2 separate regions of the Homo sapiens genome follow, and region 2 is linked to region 1. Evidence: fine-mapped expression QTL. A gene starts in region 1. The other region holds a variant in brackets. All regions are shown on one strand. Distances are between the middles of the regions. Region 1 holds the start of CRYBG3 (crystallin beta-gamma domain containing 3). Region 2 overlaps GABRR3 (gamma-aminobutyric acid type A receptor subunit rho3).

The links.
Region 2: its variant is fine-mapped to the expression of CRYBG3 in whole blood (TOPMed, PIP above 0.99).

Annotation. Positions count from the first base shown.
Region 1 is chr3:97,815,250-97,827,651 of GRCh38, reverse strand. CRYBG3 (crystallin beta-gamma domain containing 3) reads right to left here and starts at 5,641. Exons shown (of 22, transcript NM_153605.4): 1 at 5,297-5,641. The coding sequence starts at 5,445. It overlaps LOC101929298 (a long non-coding RNA gene), which reads left to right and starts at 5,876. Exons shown (of 3, transcript XR_427389.3): 1 at 5,876-5,965; 2 at 9,149-9,248. RefSeq lists a silencer at 5,495-5,864.
Region 2 is chr3:97,999,301-98,007,300 of GRCh38, reverse strand. It overlaps GABRR3 (gamma-aminobutyric acid type A receptor subunit rho3), which reads left to right. Exons shown (of 10, transcript NM_001105580.3): 8 at 5,534-5,686. Among named protein-coding and RNA genes, the nearest start is that of RIOX2, 31 kb to the right of the region's middle. The variant A/G (reference allele first, on the strand shown) is at 3,803.

The DNA of each region.
Region 1 (12,402 bases):
GTACCCTTAATAAAGGGTAGGGCCTTAATAAAGGTTAGTTTGTTTTTGTCATCATTAATTGATTAGGAAGAAAGAAAACAAACACACACTTGGTTAAGCTCTTGTTTCAGTGCTTTAGCATACTTCCAATTAAAAACTCCTGGGAGTAAGTAAAACATTCAGGGACAGTCCTGCTGGATGGAGTTGTACCATTACTTGGCCACGTACAACTGCCAAATAAACACTAAGAATGACTTATTACTAGTGGAAAAACTTCGATTTGTTCTCTAACAGCATCAACCTTCCTGGTGTTTCTAAGTGCCTACTTGAAGGTTGGGGAGGGTACCACCCCTAGCTGAATGTTACTAATAAGTCCTTTAATGCTCCAATCAACAGTCACTCCTCACCTGAACTAAGGGGACGCAAAGATGAAGACAAAGCCCCTGACCTTGGGTCTAGCAATCCTGTCTCAACTTCTTTCCATCAAAAAAAAAGCACTGCCACTTTTTTGGAATGTTGATTCCCGAAGGGATGCCCTTTTCTGCCTCTATCCAGGACTTGCAAAGCCTGAAGGGTCAAGGAGGAAAGCAAGAGGAACCAAGGGGCAGCATTTCCATTCACCTTGATGGTGCAGTTACTATCATGTTTCCCCCACTATGCTGCCTTGGCAAAGGAAGCTAACCAAACCATGCTTGGAGAAAAGTTAATAATGTGAGAACATATTTTGAAAGCCCAGTTAAAGTTCTCATACAACGTATGACATTCGTGAAACATTAAGTATGCTCTGAACGAAACAAGTCACACACTCCAAAGACATGTTTGGTTTATAATGAGTTCATATTAAGAACAGAGATGTACACTTTTATCTCCTCCATTAATGTGTGAATTCTATGAAGGCATATTTGGTCATCCATTTATGGTTATATCCACATTGCTTTGCACCATATGAGACACAAAGCAGCCACTCTAACTTATGGATTGAACAGACTCAAAGTAGGTATTACCTCCTTAACTTTTACTTCATGCTGATTCCTTCTTTTCAGCATATAGCCTAGATTATTTTCCTTAATTTTACAACCACCTACAGTTTGTTGCTATCATTTTATTTAATAATTGGTAACTAACGTTTCTTATATCTGGACTTTGGTATATTTCATCAGAACTTTGGATAGAAAATATTTTGTCTTGAGGGAATATTTTCTCTTATTTTACAAAACTTGCTATTACCCTTTTTACATATTTTCCGCTGTTATGAGTAAAAAAACTTAAAAATGTTATAACTGTCAATAAAGTTAGAAGTTCTGATTATATAAACTTACTGCAGGTCAATTTGTGGTACCTTTGCAACTTTAACACTTTCAGAGCATACAATTGAGTCCATTTCCAAGGAATGTTCACAGCAAAAAATAGAATTCCCAAATTAGCCATCTGGTAGACACCTTATTGAACCCAAGAGATGGAAATCACTTGGAAAAGGTGGACTTTTGATACCCTACAACAGGCTATATTTTGACTCTGCTGCCAAGAGTAAGCTTTTGCTTTGAATTAACCTAGAGGAGCAGAGGGGGACAAGATTCTCACAAATTACACACCCCTAAAGACTTCTGGAATTCTCTCGTCATCTTCACTACTGAAGGCATGAACTGCTGATGTGACACAGGTATCTCCTATCCAACTAACTAGTTACCAATTATTTTTAGTGCTTCAAATCAATAAAAATGCAATCATCATGACAATTTAGAAAACAAAGCTTCCTTTCCTCACATAACTGATGCTGTTGTCAACACTGGTAGTTTAACCTGAAGGCCAATAGCTCTCCCATGCTGGTCATCAGAAGTACTACTGACATTTCTGACAGTACAGAGTACCTCCTACACCACAGCTCATTAGCAGCCTGGTCCCACCCATTCACCTCCTCTCACGATTTAGGGTAATCACTCTCCACTGGGAGTGGTATCACTCTCCCTCCCACCCACCTGGGTGGAGGAATTTTCAGTTATCCCAATGACCAGAGGATGCTACTGGCAATTAGTGTGTGTAATCATGGATACCAAACATCTTGCAAAGGACAAAAGAGTCCAGTTCAAAGAATTGTTCCATTCAAAACGCCCATAGCATCCATCACTGAGCACTCTCCCAAACTCAGTTTCTTCAATTGTCAGATCGTAAAAGTGGACCAACATTTCACACTGAGTGTGAGATTTACATGATACGTTGCAAGTAAAAGTACCCAGCCCAGAAGTAAGTGCACAGTCAGCCCTTGATAAATACTGTTCTCACCTTACCATCTCTCTTCACAGTTACAAACATTGCACAGAACTCATTTTAAACAGGTCCATCATGCATGATACAGCCAAGAAACAAAGTTGAGCAATCATTTCTTGAAGCAGATAAAGGCAGGAATTCCTCCAAGTTTCATATTTCAGCAATATCTGTATAACAGGCTTTTGCAAAAATTCTCTGAGCCTTAAATCTAGAGCCAAACATTTTGTCTAGAGACCTTTATAACCCAGTTCCAACCTAAATTTCTTACTGCTCCTTTCACTCTGTCCCATTAATGTATATATCCCCTAACAGATCATAAACCCCTTGCAGGCCTTTGCTCAGTCTGGAATGCCTTTTCCCGGAATACCTGTTCCCTATTCTCTCTCTTCCTAAGTTCTCTTTGTATAGAAACATCACCAATTCCTTGAAGACCCAGTTAAAATCATCCCTACCAGGAAGCACTTCCTGGTCTCCCCTATCACTTCTAATGAGTCCATTCCTTGTATGCTTATAAACTGGGCTTAACACTGCACCAGTGATTCTCAAACTGGGATCCACAGAACTCTGGGAGTTTTTGAGTTTCCTATGAAAACTTCAATTGCAGTTTTCCTTTTTATCATCTAAAATAAATTAATATAAGCATTTCCTGGAAATGGTCAACCACCTAATATGAGTACAATCAAGCAATTTGAGTGCCTACGCCTAAGTTGGGATATACAATAGTGTTGATGCTAATAGGCCTTCTTTAATTGTGACAAAGAAAGAATACATAATGAAGTGTTGTCACCAACTGAAGCCCATATAAATCACAGCACACCATAAAAACAAAGATTTTCCTATGGTTCAAAACAGTAAAATATTGGAAGACCTGTATCAAGGCATGGCAGCTCCCCAAAGACCTGGTGTTTGTCCCAGTACGCATTTTGTGAGCAGGCAAAAAAACAGTTTCAGGATGTTGTAAATTCGACTTTTACGGGTCTCATAATTATGTTTTAGTTTATTTTTTAATTTTGTACTCCTCTTCATCTAAAATCATCACTACAGAAGGTATACCCAGCTCTCATAATGATAAAAGTTTTTATGCCCACAAAGAGAAATAGCCAAAATACTCTTTCATTTTGAAATAAGATCACAGTGACAAATTGCAATTCTGTTTCCAATCTTGTTAACATCAGGGTGTTGTGTTACTGGGACATTCAGTACTATAAAGCGGTTCCATTTGTTTTATTAAACTTTCAATAAAGGCTTTGTGTTTGTTTATGCCCTTGAAATGAAAGATTTAAGCTCATTTAAAACAGTAAAACACCCACATAAAGGGTCATCTGCTATCCCCCTAACATCTGGCAAGTTCCAAAAAAGATGAGAACAAAATTAGCGTTGATATAAGCACAATTAAAATCTTCATCGTTGAAAAGCCATAATTTGTGCCAATCTGGAGATGATGAGAATAGAGAAGTGGTAGGTGAACAAGGAACTAGTTGCTGGAGGGGTCAGCTCCAGTCAGTAAAGAAATTAGAATTGAGAAGTGCCTTAAAAAGCCAAAATAGGGCAGAGAGGCAAGCAGGATTTCAGGCCATTACTGACATGAGCCTGAATTTGACCTGCTTACTCCTTTCTAACACTGACTCTCAAGTTCCCAACTTTTGCTGCGCCTACTTGGGATTTCCTTGCAGACTGCGTTCATATTATCCAAGACTGTTAGTGCTGTTACGGCGGTGGCAGGCACCACAGGCTGTCTGCCCACACCAACAGAACTAGCTGACACCCTGGATGAGATCTGTCAGACTTAAAAACTATTTTTAACTTCTGTGTAACTTTGAATTTTAAACTCTCAACAGTCAGAGCAATAATAGCTGAAACGTCCCAGGAGAATAACCACTCAATTATCGTAGGAGCTTTCTTGGAAACATGTGGCATGTTATTAACAGACGGTCATAATGAAAATGTTTCACAAGCGGGGAAACCGAGGAACACACAAACGACTAAAATCACATCACAAAATCTGAATACTAATGGAATTGGCTCACTCTCAGTTCTGTTTCCTATCCATTTTTTTTAAGCCCACCAGGAAATCTTGAGTCCGAAGTAAACACGGTTTTCTGGAGTGTGTCCTTCCAATGACAATGGTCATTCTAGTGCAATCTCGGGAGAAGACAGTGTAAGCCTCTCATAAGTTTAAGAAAGCGAGCTGCGTTTTACTTAACCCCTCTTTCTTCGGGGGGATGAAAAGACTCAGAAACAGGCATTTAAATGAGGCATGTCTAAAATTTTTTGATTTTTGAACATGGGAAAGTGAAGGAAAGATAAAAATATTACAGAGAAAGGGTACATTTTGATTACTGAAACCAAGACAGCTGGAAACCTGATTTCCAGAATCTGTTTGGGAACTTGAGGCAGATGTTTCTAGGAGAGATGAGAAATAAAGAAGGGTGGCGTCATTTACATGTCCAGTCCATTTTGGTGAAAGTCTTGGGAACGCATTATCACAATTCCTTTTAAAAATCATTTTGAGAAAATTTAAATAAGATGGCAAAAATACCAGCTGAGGGGGTGACGCCCCAAAGCTTTACCTTTTCCACTTTTGCCCCGATCTCCTCCCACACAAGTGGTGCTGGGATCGCGCCCCCAATTCCCCTGGCCGACGGCTCCGCTCGGCTCACAAGTGTTTCCCATTACTGCAGGCGGGACGCCGGGGAAATCGCTTTTGCCACAGAACTTGGAGAGTAGAGCGTGTGTGGAACGGGAACCCAATCACGTCCGGGCAGGGGAAAGTGGGAAAGGAAGAGCGCGGAGCCAGGCGGGGATCGGGGGATATGCGTCCGGCTGCCGGGCAAGAACTTCACCCCGATTTAACCTGCAGAGGAGAGGCGAGTAGTGCGGCACGGGAACGGGGCAAGGAGGAGGAAACTTTAGCAATGGAGGAAGGAGAACAGAAAGTGGCGAGCGAACTGCAGCCTGGCCCAAGAGCGGCCCGCTGCCGGCGGTCAGGCCGGGAGCCTTCATCCCGCGAATATGTGCAGGGCCCCCCCGCGACCCCCTCCTCGACTCCCACCTGGCAGCGGACCGGCCTGGAGCTGGAGGCGGGCTCGTCCCCGGCCTCTCCTCCTCTTCCTCTTCCTTGTCCCGGGAAGGACTTCGGGGAGCGAAGAACCGGGAGAAGCTGTGCCAGGGGGCGCTGCCCCTTCTGCGGCCGCTGGACATTTCCCGAGGGGGCCGCTGGCCCGGGGCTGTCTGAAGGGAACGGCCTAGGTGTTGCCTGGTGCCCGGAGCCCGACCGGGCGCCGCGGGATGCGGCTAGGGCAGACCGACTCGACGCGAGCTGCCAGCGCGGCTCAGTCTCTCTCGGGCAGGAGAAGTGCGGACGCGACGCGCTCCTCGCGCGGCAGCTCCTCACGCCGCTGCGGCTGCTCCTCCTCCCGCCCTCGCCCGGCGCGGCCCGCCCCACCCCGAGGAGGAGCCAGTGGCCGCGGCACCGCCCTGAGCCGGGCGCAGCCGCCACCGCTGGGGCGCTACGTGGTCCCCCGAAGGCGCCGGCCTGAGAGCCTGAGGGGAGTCGCCCAGCGTGCGACGCTAGGCTCGGGCTTACGGCTCAAACAAGTTCAGGCTGCAGCCTGTTGGGCTTTGCCTTCAATTACTTTCTGTGACCGTTGTGTTTTCTATTCTACAGTCAGAGCACAGAAACGGTTTTCTTCGGGCTTTTGAAAGAGGTTTATGAACTAAGGTTTGTGAAAACACTTGGCAAACTGCAGTACCGGGGCGCCCCGGACTTGCTGGGAGCTAAGAAACAGCTACCGCAAATACAGCTCCAACCCTGAGGGCGAAAGTCGCGTTAGCACAGAACCGGGCGGCGGGAGGGAGAAGGGGGTACCTGTCAGGCGGTCACCACCTCCCGGCGCGTTCTGCTGGCTTTCTGTGGTGTGACTTTTCCTAACCGCGCTGTGCTTCAGACTTTTCACACGCCATACTTCCCTGCGAACTCTTTCAAAAACGGCACTGATCAAAAAGTATGATTTCAAGCTTGTCAATGCTGCAACATATTTTGCAGTCGTTACACAGATGCCACTGAAATCTGGGAACCAAAGGGTGCTTAAGACTTGTTTTAAGTCTAAGTACAGTGGTATGGATTTTTCTTGGTTTTTCATACCCTATAGCAGCTAGTACAGGAGATACTGAGAGGCCCATTCACCCCAAGTGTTTTGTTTTTGTTTGAAGGCAAGCTGCCCCTGGAGTAGACGTCAAGGAAGTGATATGGCTTTTGTTCATTAAAAAATGTATACAAGTAAATGAGATAAAAATGAAATGTCCACAGCAGAGGGGAGCCTTGGAGTAATCTCCCCTCTGGCTTTCGGGTGCTGGAGGAGAAGGTTGCTCATAAGTAGATTGCATACCTATAAGCCCCAAGTCCTTTCAGCACCTGCTGGAGGCTATTGAGCCTCCCTGCCTCCCCACGCTGCCTCCCAGAAGCCCTCCAGCTCCTACTAACTGCAATAGAGCCAAGACACTCATTCTCATTTGTTCTGGCAGGATTTAACCCATTAAAGTTCAGTCAGCCCGATTTCCATCAATCGGGTTCATCTCAGTCTATCCCTCAAGATTAATCCTTTTTTACTCTTTGGTAAATTTTTCCTATTTCTCTGTGAGCCTAGTCTGAGAAAATAGAAAAAGACTAAGATAATAGACTAGAATAAGACAAGTTCCCAATTCTAGCTTTATTATTTTATAAGAGAATCTCCACTGAAGACCCACTTACCAAAAAGCCCAAAGAGAGTAATAAAGCAAACTGTTTCTTCCAGCTAAAAGGCCCAAATGATAATTTGTCTTCCCAACGTATTATTGAATGACTATCACATTTGTCCCTGACTTGTTCTGTGATCAAACCAGGCCCCAGTGCCTACCCAGAGGGTACTTCGTTCAGGAAGTTTTTCTTGGAATAAAAATGGGGGGGAGTCAATAGGATTTAATTAATGAATTATGGTTTTAACTAATAATATATCTAACAATACTCTGATCTCCACTCGGTAGCACAGCAAAGCACTTAAGTGAATGGTAAATACAAATAATGCCATGTTTACACTAAGACAAATTGCGTCTATGACAAAATAGCTTAAAGTCATAAAACAATGACCATTGAATTTTCCTTCATTTGCTTTCTGAGCACTTATTAGTTTTCTATATGTCCTACATTGTTATAACCTGAACTCATATGAACAAATTTCTAAATACTAAATTCTAAGATTGCATTAGGAAGCCTGTAAAAATGTCAAATTTTAGAGCTGTAAGGATCTTAGAGATACTAATTTAGCACAGTGTCATTAATTCACTGATCCAGTTATTCCCCGACGTTTAGTGAGTGCCTGCAGTAGAAGCACATCTACAGTGAAGCCGATGAGGCTCAAGTTTCTTGGCTCCCTGCTGGCACAGTCTCTTCCAGTGTGAACTCAGCAATGGGATCCATGGCCAGTTTTATCAAATTTACAAAAGTAAATGTTTTAATGTGATTAAGACCACAATCTCTTTTTTTTTCCACTTAGATGTCCACTTAGATTTTCTTTTCCACTTAGAGTTATCAAGAGCATTTGGGAATCTGCTAGGGAATTTCAGTTGGGAATATATTTAGTTTGGACTTAGTGGAATATATTTATGTGGTTTCCAGCCTCTCCAAAGTATAGTTATTTCTTAAATTCCAATTTGTTTGTAGCGCAGCTCACCAAGTATTACACCCAAGATGCAGAGCCAGAGGAGATATATTCTGTGGTCTCTGACACTGAAAATATGTGGGTAATAGAGGTGAGACAAGATTTGAAAGGTAAAGCAGCATCAGGTGTCATGTGGAAAATTATTCCAGGCATCAGAAGACAAAGTTTCAACAGGAAGGATTGCCTCCGATTGATGTAATTTCTCTCATAGCAATAATATATTCAATAATGCAGTATATTTAATTTTTTTTTTGAGACAGAGTCTGGCGCTGTCACCTTGGCTGGGGTGCAGTGGTGCAATTTCAACTCACTGAAACCTCCGCCTCCTGGGTTCAAGCAATTCTCCTGTCTCAGCCTCCAGAGTGGCTGGGACTACAGGCGCCCACCACCATGCCCAGCTAATTTTTGTATTTTCAGTAGAGACGGGGTTTGACCATATTGGTCAGGCTGGTCTCGAACTCCTGACCTCAGGTAATCCACCCGTCTCAGCCACCCAAAATAATTTTTATAACTGTAAACACAAAACATTTTTTCTTGTTGATGTAAACCATGTAAAATAGAATTTATCAGAATTCTTGTTTGTAGGGTACAAACCTGTAGCAGTACCACAAGCTTTGTGTGTGTGTGTGTAGTACTGCATGTTTACACAGCCTTTCTATCAATAAGAAAAACAGAACTAGAGGAAAGATTGCATTATCTTTTCATTATTATGGAAAATAATATTACTAAATTATTGTCATATGAAAGGCTATTGAAGAGTACACTGCCAAAAATATAGGAAAAAAAGTGATTGTGCAAGGCATTTAGTAAGAAAACAAATTGTTTTTCTAGTCAACCTTTTAAAATTAGTAATTTGCATGGTTTATGTTTTCATTCAATATATTCATTTTTATATCTAATTTTCTTTTAAATCCTTTTTCTTTAAAGAGGACCCTCCAAATTGTAAAAACTTCAGATCCCACAAAACCTGGATATGTCCTCTAGTGCATACTATGTGTCAGATACATGCTCATTCTTAGACATAGAGATACGGTGATAGATAAGACCAAATGCTTAACATCAAGGAGCAAGTTTAATTGGGCAAGATGAGCAAATGGGGTAAGATGGGAAACATAGGACGGATCCCCAACTTAATCTGAAGGGTTCCTGGAAGGCTCACTAGAGGAGATAACTGTTAATATGCTCTCTTCTTCTCTGCCTCCTTTTAGCACCTGATTTCCACCTATAATACTGTAATTCAATAACTTGTGTGATATATGAGAAATCCTGAAGTTCATCACACTGTAACTGAATTGCCATTCCCACAACGTAAGTACCATTCTCAAAGGTATGAGAATAGAATGAAAGTGTTGATCCTTGAAGCATTTAAACTGCAAGAGTAGTTTAGTAATGCTAAGCGTTTTTGTTCTGAAAAGTCCACCAGGGAATAAGCTTCTGTATATATCTTAGAGCACAGTATTTACTGTGTGGCAGGTGGCCCAGGAATATTAAGACAGCTGTCAACATCAAGGAAAGCACCAGCCCATGAAAAAGCAAGCAGATGGATTGGGGCACTTCACTAGCTGCCTCCTAGAATAATAGCTGTGCGTGGCCAAATGAGGCAGTGTCATGCGGCCCAGGGCAGCAAAAAGCTATTACTGAATATAAGCACTCAATTAGGAGGTGGGGTGGGGGGAATATCTTCTCTTTTCCTTTGTTTATATGCTCAAATTTTCATTAAGAACTCCCACAGCAAATAAAAAAGGGGAAAAATGATGTTAGCATTTCTCATTGTTACTTTCTAATTATCATGGTTTGTAACATGGGGAAATGCCTGTCTTGCTGCTTCAATGAGAACAGATGGTAAAATTTTTAAGTAATTGGTTATTCCAACTTCTATGAGATGCATGATGTTTTATTGTATTGTTTGTCTGGTTTTTGTTTGCGGAACATGTGGAGATTGAGATCTTTCGAACACACATCTTTTAATGCTTAAATTAAGTAAAATGTGTTAGTCTGACCTAAACTACATTTACACTTTTCTCCCTTTGATATGATGATACTTCAAAGAGAAATTAGTCCTTTACAAAAATATAACATTAACATTAAAAATTAAATATATAGCTTTCAAACAGCACAAAATTTGCTAATATTGAAACGTACTTTTAAAAATGTATAAATAGGGGTAGCATGTCTTTGACAAACACTGATTATAACATGTGTTCCAAAATAGTTGTTCACACCAATTCAGTGTGATGTGTCTTTTATCTAAGTCAAATGCTATCTAAAATATAAGGTCATATGTAAGATATTAAGTTTTATTAATGGAGCTTCATAAGCATGACGTAGATAATGGCTCAGAATAATAATTTACTATTAGATGAGAAATTCATCCTCTATATTGTTTTCCCAAAATATTTCATCTGACTTCATAAACTCTGCACTGTAATATGCACTTCTGATATACAATTTTAAAAGTATTCCATAAAGAATGATTATTTATAAATTTCTAGACTGCATTATATTACTGTTAGTTGTAAGTTTTGTTTCTTAGGGCTTTATGAAACAAAGCTTTGGAGCAAAACAAACAAAACAGAAAAAGTGGCTGTGAACTGGTTTCCTTTTTATCTTATTGTGACGTTTTATAGTATACATGTCCCAGAAGCTAGAGCTTTCTTACTATGGGTACTTTGTTCTCAGTTTGATTTCTTGCAAATGGTTTAAAAACAAGGCATAGTGGCAGCTGCTTTTGTGAGCAAATGTTTTGATTAGGGAGAGAAAGCAGCTGGAAATGCTACATGCTGTCATATAAAATGAACCAGTTTTCACATGGGAACTTTACCTAATCTAAAATTGAGATTAACGTAATTTCCTGTACATGAATTTTCTTTGCATAGAATAAAATAGAAATCTATTCACTTTGATTACAATTTGGAGTGATGAAATGATGAACATAGTGCTGAATATAAACTTGACATGTCTATGGAAATCTTACTCCATTCTGAAAGAAAGTATCATTAACAAACTTCCAGAAAAATTTATTTAAAAATATTGCTAAAGGTAGTAGCAAAAAAAAATCCATATGGAGCTTATAAAACCAAATGTTACTATAGATGACATAATTTTTTACTTCTTAAAAATGGGGCAAGTACATTTCTTAATGACCCCACTTTCATTTTGAAAGACCTGTAAAAAATTATTTAAAGTATAACTTAACTGGATTTGCAAATAATGAACAAAAGAACCAGACAGCAATATTTTAATTAGTTTATCCTACCAATTGAATTCCTTCCTCACCTCTTCTAGTCAGCTTTTCACTGGTAAAGGAAAAAAGCAGTTACCTATGAAAAGAGGTAAACAGAAGACAAGAAGTTAGGTTTTCTTCTTTGTTTTGCCCCTTACCATGACCTCTGGAAATTTTATGAATGAGACTGCAGATACTAAAATGTGTTTTATTTGTCCTTTTGTTTTTGTTTTGTTTTTGGTTTAGGGATGGGCTCTCTTTTGCGCAGGCTAAAGTGCAGTGTGATCTTAGCTCACTACTGCATTGTAGCCTCGAATTCCTGGGATCAAGTGATCCTCTCACCTTAGCCTCGCAAGCTGAGATTACTGGCACAAGCCACCTTGCCTAGCTATATGTCTTTAAAAAAAAAAAACACATATCAACATGAAAAAGATGTAATAACTATTATTTAATGTACTTAGTCACATTTCCACGATTATTTCTCACTTTGAAAATTACTGGAGGCCAGGCATAGTGTCTCACACCTGTAATCCCAGTACTTTGGAAGGCAGAGGCAGGAGGATCACTTGAGCCCAGGAGTTTGGGACCAGCCTAAGCAACAGAGTAAGACCTCATCTCTACTAAAAAGAAAAAGAAAAACATTAGCCAGGTGTGGTAACAAGCACCTGTAGTCCCAGCTCTTTGGGAGGCTGAGATGGCAGGATTGCTTGAGCCCAGGATGTTGAGGTTGCAATGAGTCATGATCATGCCGCTGCACTCCAGAGTGGGTGACAGAGCAAGAACCTGTCTCAAAAAAAAAAAAAAAAAAAAGACCAAAAAGTTACTGGAAAGGATGTTGAGTACTTGACTTTAAAAGGACAGTAATTTCTATCCAAACCCCTGTTATGATGGGGTTTGATTAGTCACTGCAGAAGCACTCTGTTTAGCAAAGAACAAAAAGCAAAAGGAATGATATTTTTATAAGCATTCAATAGAAATTTTTACTGAAATATCAAAGTAAAAAGAATTCTCAATTGATTTCATATTAATAACCATTCTTAAGTTTTCATTCATTTCTATGTCCTATCTTCTATTTCATTTTTATTCTTTTCAGTTCCCCAAATAAGCTCTTCTAAGTAGTCAGTTTCTATATAAGTCATTTGGTCTACTTCTCATACAGGTAAATGTATTGACATACTGCTTTTATTATTGAGTACAGAAGACAATTAATGAACAAATTGTTTTTATGAACCATGCAGT
Region 2 (8,000 bases), 180 kb before region 1:
GCCTTGTCCTCCCTCTGCCTGGGGTGCTTTCCCCCAATATTCTCATGCCCTTCTCCCTCATTTCAGTCAGAGCTTTGTTCAAATAGCTTCTCAAACAGTGCTTTCCTAACCAAACCAACCCCGTGTAAAACAGGCTTCCTTTCTCACCGTTCCCTATCTCGGTCATCACAGCACTTACCATCACCTGAACTATGCGTTTATTTGACTGCTTTGTTGTGTGAGTGCCTCACCAGGAAAAGGGTGGGGAATCTGTCTGCCTTGCTCACCATTTCTTCTGCAGCACCTGGAATGTTCTTGGCACGTGACAGATGCTCAATAAAAATCAGCTGAATGAATCCATCCATAAAGTGCATCATTGCCCCAAACAGAAAACCTATCCAAAATTGGGCCTATATAGTACTCTTTACTATGACAGATATATTTCTGAATTGACAACTTTTATCCAAGACACCTTTTAAAGTTATATGTGATCCCCATTGACTAAAGTTGGAAGCAGCCTCCTTCGGTTCCCCTCTGCCCTCCTCACCCTCCACTATCATTCCCCTTCTGGATATTAATATTCTGGGTTATTTTAGGCCGAATCCATATAAAATGCCACTTCAGATTCAATGCAGCCATGCTTAGGCCAGCCAGAAAGTGTGCCAACAGCTGTCCCTGAGTTTCAGAGCTGTCCTGGCTAGAATGCTTTACCTACTCTGCCTTGATAGTGGTGTCTCTTCTCCTCAAAGATTCTCCACTCTGTTCTCAGATCTTGGAGAGTAGTTATCAAGTTTGTATCTAAAACCTGCAGCTTTAAGAGAGAAGTAGAAGTTGACATTGCAGAGAAGTTAAATGATTCTCTAGGAACAACAGCTATTTATCTATTTAGACCCAGAAGAAATTCTCTATTTCACTCCATTATTTGTCTACATTGCTTGGGATTCAGCAAATGATGCTCTCAATTTTAATCATGTTTATTGCCTTTTCTGATTATGTAAGTAGCACATATTTATTTGTTTTGATCACTGATATATCCCTGGCTCATAGTAGATGCTCAAAGGCTAATTATTGAATGAATGAATAAATGTTAGATAATTTGAAGAGACCTCAGAAAAATTTAAAGGAAAATCTCTTTGTAATCCTACCTCATAGAGATAAACTATATTATTATTTTGATATATTTTTCTGCTCCTCCTTCTTCTCCTCCTTTTCTCGGTTTGTCTTTCTCTATATGAATAAATATAGGCATATATTTATCAGGATTTTTAATGTTCTTACTTAATCCTAAATTAAATTAATATTTAAATAAAAGAATGTATGCAATGAAGCATGGTATATGTGAAGTATAATTTATAGGATGTGTTTTCATTTTACTATTGCTAAAATGAAAAATAACTTTGGCATATGATAAATTGTAAATAGATATTTGCAACATTTAATGCTAATATAATGTAATATATATGAAGCATAGAAATCAAAAAGAATTGTCTCATGCACAGAACATATGCAAAATATACAATAATTATGGCATTTCTTTAGCTTTTGAAGCACAACTATCCATTAACATATATCCAACCGTCCTCCTAACAGGAAGTTAAATTTCACTTCAAAATTCTAACTTTACCACTAAATCATTCCATTTGCTCTACCATAATTTTATTTGTGCTTGTCAGACTTTTTGAGCCCTACCAGGCAGCTACAACACTAGCTGATTTATATCTTTTTCTGGTCATGTTTTAGAATCTCTCTAAAGCCAGGAAAATACTGGCATGGAAAAACTTACTGCTTACAAAGATGCTTGCATTTTAAAATGAACTTACAAATCTTTAACGTTCAAAGGTAGTTACATTTTTAAGAAATATCATTTTGGTTCCTAAGAAAAATGAAAAAAAATTAGAATTAGGTTCAAATGTACATGCTTTGTGTAACATGAGAAGGAGACTTATCCATAATACATTAATATTCTTTAAAAGCAAGTTACGGAAGAATATATTTTAAAAATCCCATATTTGTTATTGAAGAATGTATGTATACATATTTATGAGTGCATGAGTGCTTATATACATATCTGTGCATATCGTGTGTGTGTGTGTGTGTGTGTGTGTGTGTGTTAAAAGCCTAGAAAGATTAACAATAGATACCTCTGAGAAGTAGGTACAAAAAACACTTGTATTTTTTAATTTGTTACAATATACCCATTTTTTTTAATGACAGAGATTGGTAGGAAAAATGCCGAAGGGAGGCATTTTGGAAGTTGTATTCAAATATCAAATCAATAATCATATCTGGGTTCATTTAACCATCCCTTAGTTAGGTTTCGGAAAGATTACATTTAGAAACTTATTTTAGTTCATGAGCATGTGATAGCTCTGCCTCACATTATCCACGAATCATTAAACATAATCTTCTGACAAACTCAAGTGTCTTTTTCAGACTAGTTTCCTGTTTAAATATTTTAGCTTCCTCAAAAATAATTTTTGATTTGTTTTCTTCACTCCTATCCTTACAACTACCAGCCACAACCACCACTCCCAGGTGTATAGAAAAACTATACATCTGACTCTGGCTATAAGAGTCAGAAATATAGTTATAGGACCTTAGTTTCCATTTTACAGCTGAACAACAGGGTGTTTTTTTTTTTTTCTTGGCCTTCACCACTACCGTTGCCACTGTTCAAAAATCACCACGACCTGGCAATATTAACAAGCAGATGAGGGCTTCTGCCTCCTGATCCCTTTCTCAAAATTCTCAAAATCATGCACTATAAATTTACAAAGAAAAAAGAAATGACTCCTGCCCCTAAGGGATGCATTGAATAATTATTCTTTATCATAGCATAATCTAATGGCTGAATGTGTAAGTAGTAGAAACAGACTGCCTAAGTTCAAACCCTGTCTCTATCATTTATTAGCAACCTGACCTTGGACAAGTTGCTTAATCTCTCTAACCCTTAACTTTCTCATCTTTAAATGGGTTTCATAATACTCTCTATATCATAGGGTTGTGAGGATACATGATGTCATATAGTTAAGTACCTTAGAATGTTATCTGCCATATAATAGAGGCTCAATAAATATTAGTTAGTAGCTGTCATCATCACCCTATTTTCATCCACATTATTTTGATCCTTTTCATAGAGAGTATTAAGGCCTACTTTCAAAGGGCCATTGAAGGTGACTGTCTCTAGGTATAAAAACCTTCTTTATTCTTGTCTTGGGACTGACTCCCCAAATACTGGCCCAGTCCTCCATTTCCCTGGGTGCCAACTCTCTAGCCTTTTTCTCTCTGTTATTAACTCCTCTTCTTTCTACTGTATGGCAAACTAATGGAGGCAGATGTACCCGTCCCCATCCAAAATTTAGTTCAGATGCCAAAACTGATGATGCCATACACATGACAAAAGGGTATGAAGTGATTTATTACTTACATAATGAGGCTTTCTAGAGAGAGATGGGCAGGCTCCCAAGCAGGTCTGAAATGAAAAATGGCTTGAGAAAACAGGAAGGGGCTACTGGCTTGGGTTTTTATGGTAGCTAGGGGGTGCAGCTAGGGTGAAGGCTGCCTGTCGTAGGACAAGATGCATGGTTTGAACTTTTCACAGGTGCCAAAAAGAGACCTAGGCTTTTTATTAACTTGCTCAGATGTAGGGCAGAAGGAGAAGTTGGGCTTGAGAGCTTTTAGCAGTCAAACATCAAAAATAGAATCAGACTTTTTATTGTACTACCCAAAATGAAGGCTTCACAACGTTCCAAGGCAGCACCACCTTTCCTGATAGGGAAATGGACTCCCCATGACCTGCAGGTTCAACTAAAATACCACCCCT[A/G]GTCTAAAACCACAAGACAGAGCCACAGTTTGACTTCCTGGTTACTCCACCCTGCCCCCACCCCACCAAAAAAAAAAAAAAAGGACAACTGTTCTTCAGAAAATTATGAATAAAGAAAGGATGCAGTTAACTAATTTTATTTCAAGTTAATAATGAACAGAAAACTATATACCTTAATACTGTCTTTCTTTTGAATTTCTTTCACAGGTTTTCCTTATTTCTTTTAACCTCACAGTAGTTATATAAAGTTGTAAGGTCAGAAAGCTGTTATTGTACTCTACAGCCATCACTGAAACTCTCAGTGGTACACAGTAATAAATTGGGGCTGTGATGTAGGTGATACAAGACAATGAGAAGCTTAAAAATAATTTATATTTTAACTTTATAATGTACTATGTGATGTATATTTTATTACTCCTGGTAATAAAATTGTTTGGTATTCCTGAACATATATAAACTGACTGTTAGAAGCTTAGAACTAGGTAAGGAAGAAAAAGATAATGAGTATTTCATTGAGAATAGGATTCTAAGAGTAGAGTCTGCCAGTTCAGTGTGGGTTGGCCAGGTGTATTTCTTAGGCCAAATGCCTAAGTACTTAAGTGATCCATCTAATAGGTTTGCCGTCTTGGGTTTCTAAGAAATTACTGCTGAGACTAGCAGAAGGGTTTTCCAACTCTGCAATACCTATGATTTTTATTTTATAACTTTTGACCTATAGTCCCTGTGTTTTGAATAATGTTATTTGAAAATAAACAGCATTTATCATAGAAAAAAAATCTTGCTACTTATTCAGAAAAGATGTATTTCCATGTTTCCTCATGTATTGCCTTATTTTAGTAAAGATTTAACAAGATTAGCACATAGTTATTGTGAAATAAAGCAAGGTAATATAAATTAGAAATGTATGAGAAAAAAAAGAAAAACAAGGATAAGGTATTATATATATCCTGGTATGTGTATGTGGTCATTAAAGAATGGTGCTCAGAGAAGTCCTGTAGATGTCTGAAAATTTGGCTTTAAACTTCCTTGTAGTCAATGGGAGAGGTAAACCTGAACAAAATGTGTGTGTGGATGTCACCACAAATGGTGCTTTTAATTAGCGCAGTTAATATTACCAACGTGAGTTTATATAATTTCAATAGGAAGCAAAGAAACATCAGTTGGTTACTTTTTTGCAGATTCATCATGCACAAATTATGGTACTTGTGAGACTTTAAAATTGTAAAACTAGCTTATGGATGCTGTTTTCTTTCTCCTTTGAATCCCCAGCTGTCTCCATCTCAGGTCAAAATCCAATGACCTAGTACATACTCTGAATCTTTTCATTCAGTTAAATGTTTTTTTCATTTGTTATAGCTAATAAATGGTTTATTGGTTCTTTTATGCCATTATTAGTCATGTATTGAAGACTTTCCCTCTTGCAGAAACGCCACAATACAATATATTGTGGAGACAGATCTTTAGAGGCCATCCCACAAAAGATAACCACTATTCATCCCTGAACTGCGGGTTTGGAAGTTAAAGGGGATCTTTGAGTCAAATAATTAAGCAGACTGCAGTTCAGCTGGTTGAACAAATGTTGATGGAGTGCCAGGCCCAACTAAATGGAGATGAGTTTGTCAAATTCCGTGTCCCCAAGAGCTTGGAGTCTAAAGAAGCAGGTCATTTCACTAAGTGCAGTGTTTCTAAGGGGAAGCTTGCTCTAATGAAAACTTTGGCTTTTTTCCACAGGTTGGTACAATAGGCTTTTCATCAACTTTGTGCTAAGGAGGCATGTTTTCTTCTTTGTGCTGCAAACCTATTTCCCAGCCATATTGATGGTGATGCTTTCATGGGTTTCATTTTGGATTGACCGAAGAGCTGTTCCTGCAAGAGTTTCCCTGGGTAAATCTTTCCCCATCTTTATAAAATGTTAACATGGGAGAAAGTTCAAGGGAGGTAAATAAAATGGGTCATACATGGAGAGGAAAAGAGAGTGGTGGTTTAGTAGGGATAGTCAGAGATGAACATCCAGGTTGCAGTATCGATCTTGACATCCTCAAGGGCAAATTGTAATTGAGTTCTTTCCTTGGGAACCCGGATTTTAGGGATGAAGTCTTTGCTGACTGACCTGCAGTTGGGTGATAGTAAAGAAAGGGGGTGAAATTATGAAGCATAAACAGCCTCACTTTTAAAGCTTATCTCTTTTCTTTTTTAAGAAAACCTCCCCATGCTTTATACAAGTCCATTTAGCTTTTCAGGACAAACCCTTACATCACAGAAAGGAAAACCTTCAAACTAATTCACACTATACTCTTAGTGTATTAATAACAAATTACCTTGGTGGGTTAACAAGAATGTGGAAGGGATGCTTGAATTTGAAAATATGAATACTGATTAGAAATTAGGACTTAACTAAAAGACCAAAATCAGAATCAACCACAGTGGAATTTCAGGTACAGTGGCATATTAGTTGGCAGGAGATTTTAGGTGGAGAGACGTTGCCAGCCTCATTAAGTCACTACACAGGGTTGATTATCTACACCGTCTAACATGCTATATGCCTCTGTCACACACACTGATTTATGGGAACCATTTCAGACCCACTTAGCAGTTATTGAGATCTTAGAAAGTAGAAGATACCAAGCTAAGCACTTAGATGACATGTTACTTAATGAGAACCCAAGAGATAATCCCACTTGCCTTTTTTGCTGGTCAGGGCTGATCCCCCTCATTTTATCTGATTTTGCTCTTTCATTTGTAGTGCTCTATCTAGAGAGGAGATTGTTATTATTACAATCATTGTTACAATTATTGTAATTATCACACAATTCATTCCAGAAAGGGTGGTTTGTAAGTTAATGTTCACAAATTATATGCATACTTCAAAAGATCATTTGAAAGACATAAATTATTAATATTAACAATTTGCTCACCTCCTTTCCCTATTAAAATATTCAATCTACAAGCATTTGAGACTTGAATATCTTCAAGGAAAAAATACCATCTGAATAAGTAATTAAATTATTTGAACTGTTTCTTCACATCAGAGCATGTGCCCTAACCTCAGTACTGCAGTGTGGCAGCATAGACCCAAATACAAGACCAAGGGCACATTTCCAGCCCTCTAGACACAATGAGGAAAGCACTCAGTCTATAAACGTTTATGAACATGATTTTCAGTCATATTTCTGAAGTTGACTGCTCTGCTCTTATACTGTGAAAATGACAGCAATAAGAGCTACTTCCATGGAAGGGTGGAGTGAATTGGGAACACTAAAACACTTTTAAGACATCCTTGAAATTCTCTGCTTCTTGCAACCACATCTGATCCCTTAGGGTTAGGAAATTGCTATGCAGATTTATGTAAAATGCATGCAAATCAGAAGTGTCCCTCTCCCACTTTTTAAAAAAATTATTTTAAGAGAACAGTAGTATTCCTATAAAACTGTTACCTTCTCAGGATTTGCTTCCTACCACCCTCACTTTTTTTTCAAAGATAATTTGCCCTCTTCTTCCCTAGCTCTTTGCAAATGCTTAGCTGCCCAATTCTCTGGAAGGTCCCTATGAATACCTATTCATCTGTCCCAATTACCTTTTCTCTTCTGCCTCCTTCCTTCACCTTCTCCACAGCATTTGACATTATTAGGCATCCTCTCCAAATCTAGGACCAACTTTAGTGGTCAAGAGTTCCAGCCTCATCTTCCTCATCTGCAAAATGAAATTATTCATACTACCTCCTAAAGGTCACTATGAGAATTAAATGGGAGAATTAATTAATTTCATCATGTCAACTGCCTAGCTTGATGCCTGGCCCATAGTGTTGGATGAAACCAACTACACACACAATGCATTAGCTTTCAATACTCTCCGCTAGTCTAGTTTTTTTCTACTCCCAAAGACTTTTTTTTCCTTTTCTCTTTCCTGCTTTTTCTTCCACTCCTTAAGTATGAGTAACTCCCTCCCAAGGATCTGCTCACTTTTGACTCTTATCAAATGGAACAAACTTTTTAATTCCAACTACTGTCCGTATGTAAGCATGTTCCATTTGGGTACTTTCAGTTGTATACTGGACTTCACCTTCAGATACTACAAGCGTTCAGCCTGTTTAGAACCGAGTCTTTCCTTGGGAACCCAGACTTCAGGGATGAAGCATGTGCCAACAGACCTGTAGCTGGATGATAGTAAGGAAAGAGAGTGAAAGTATGAAGCATAAATA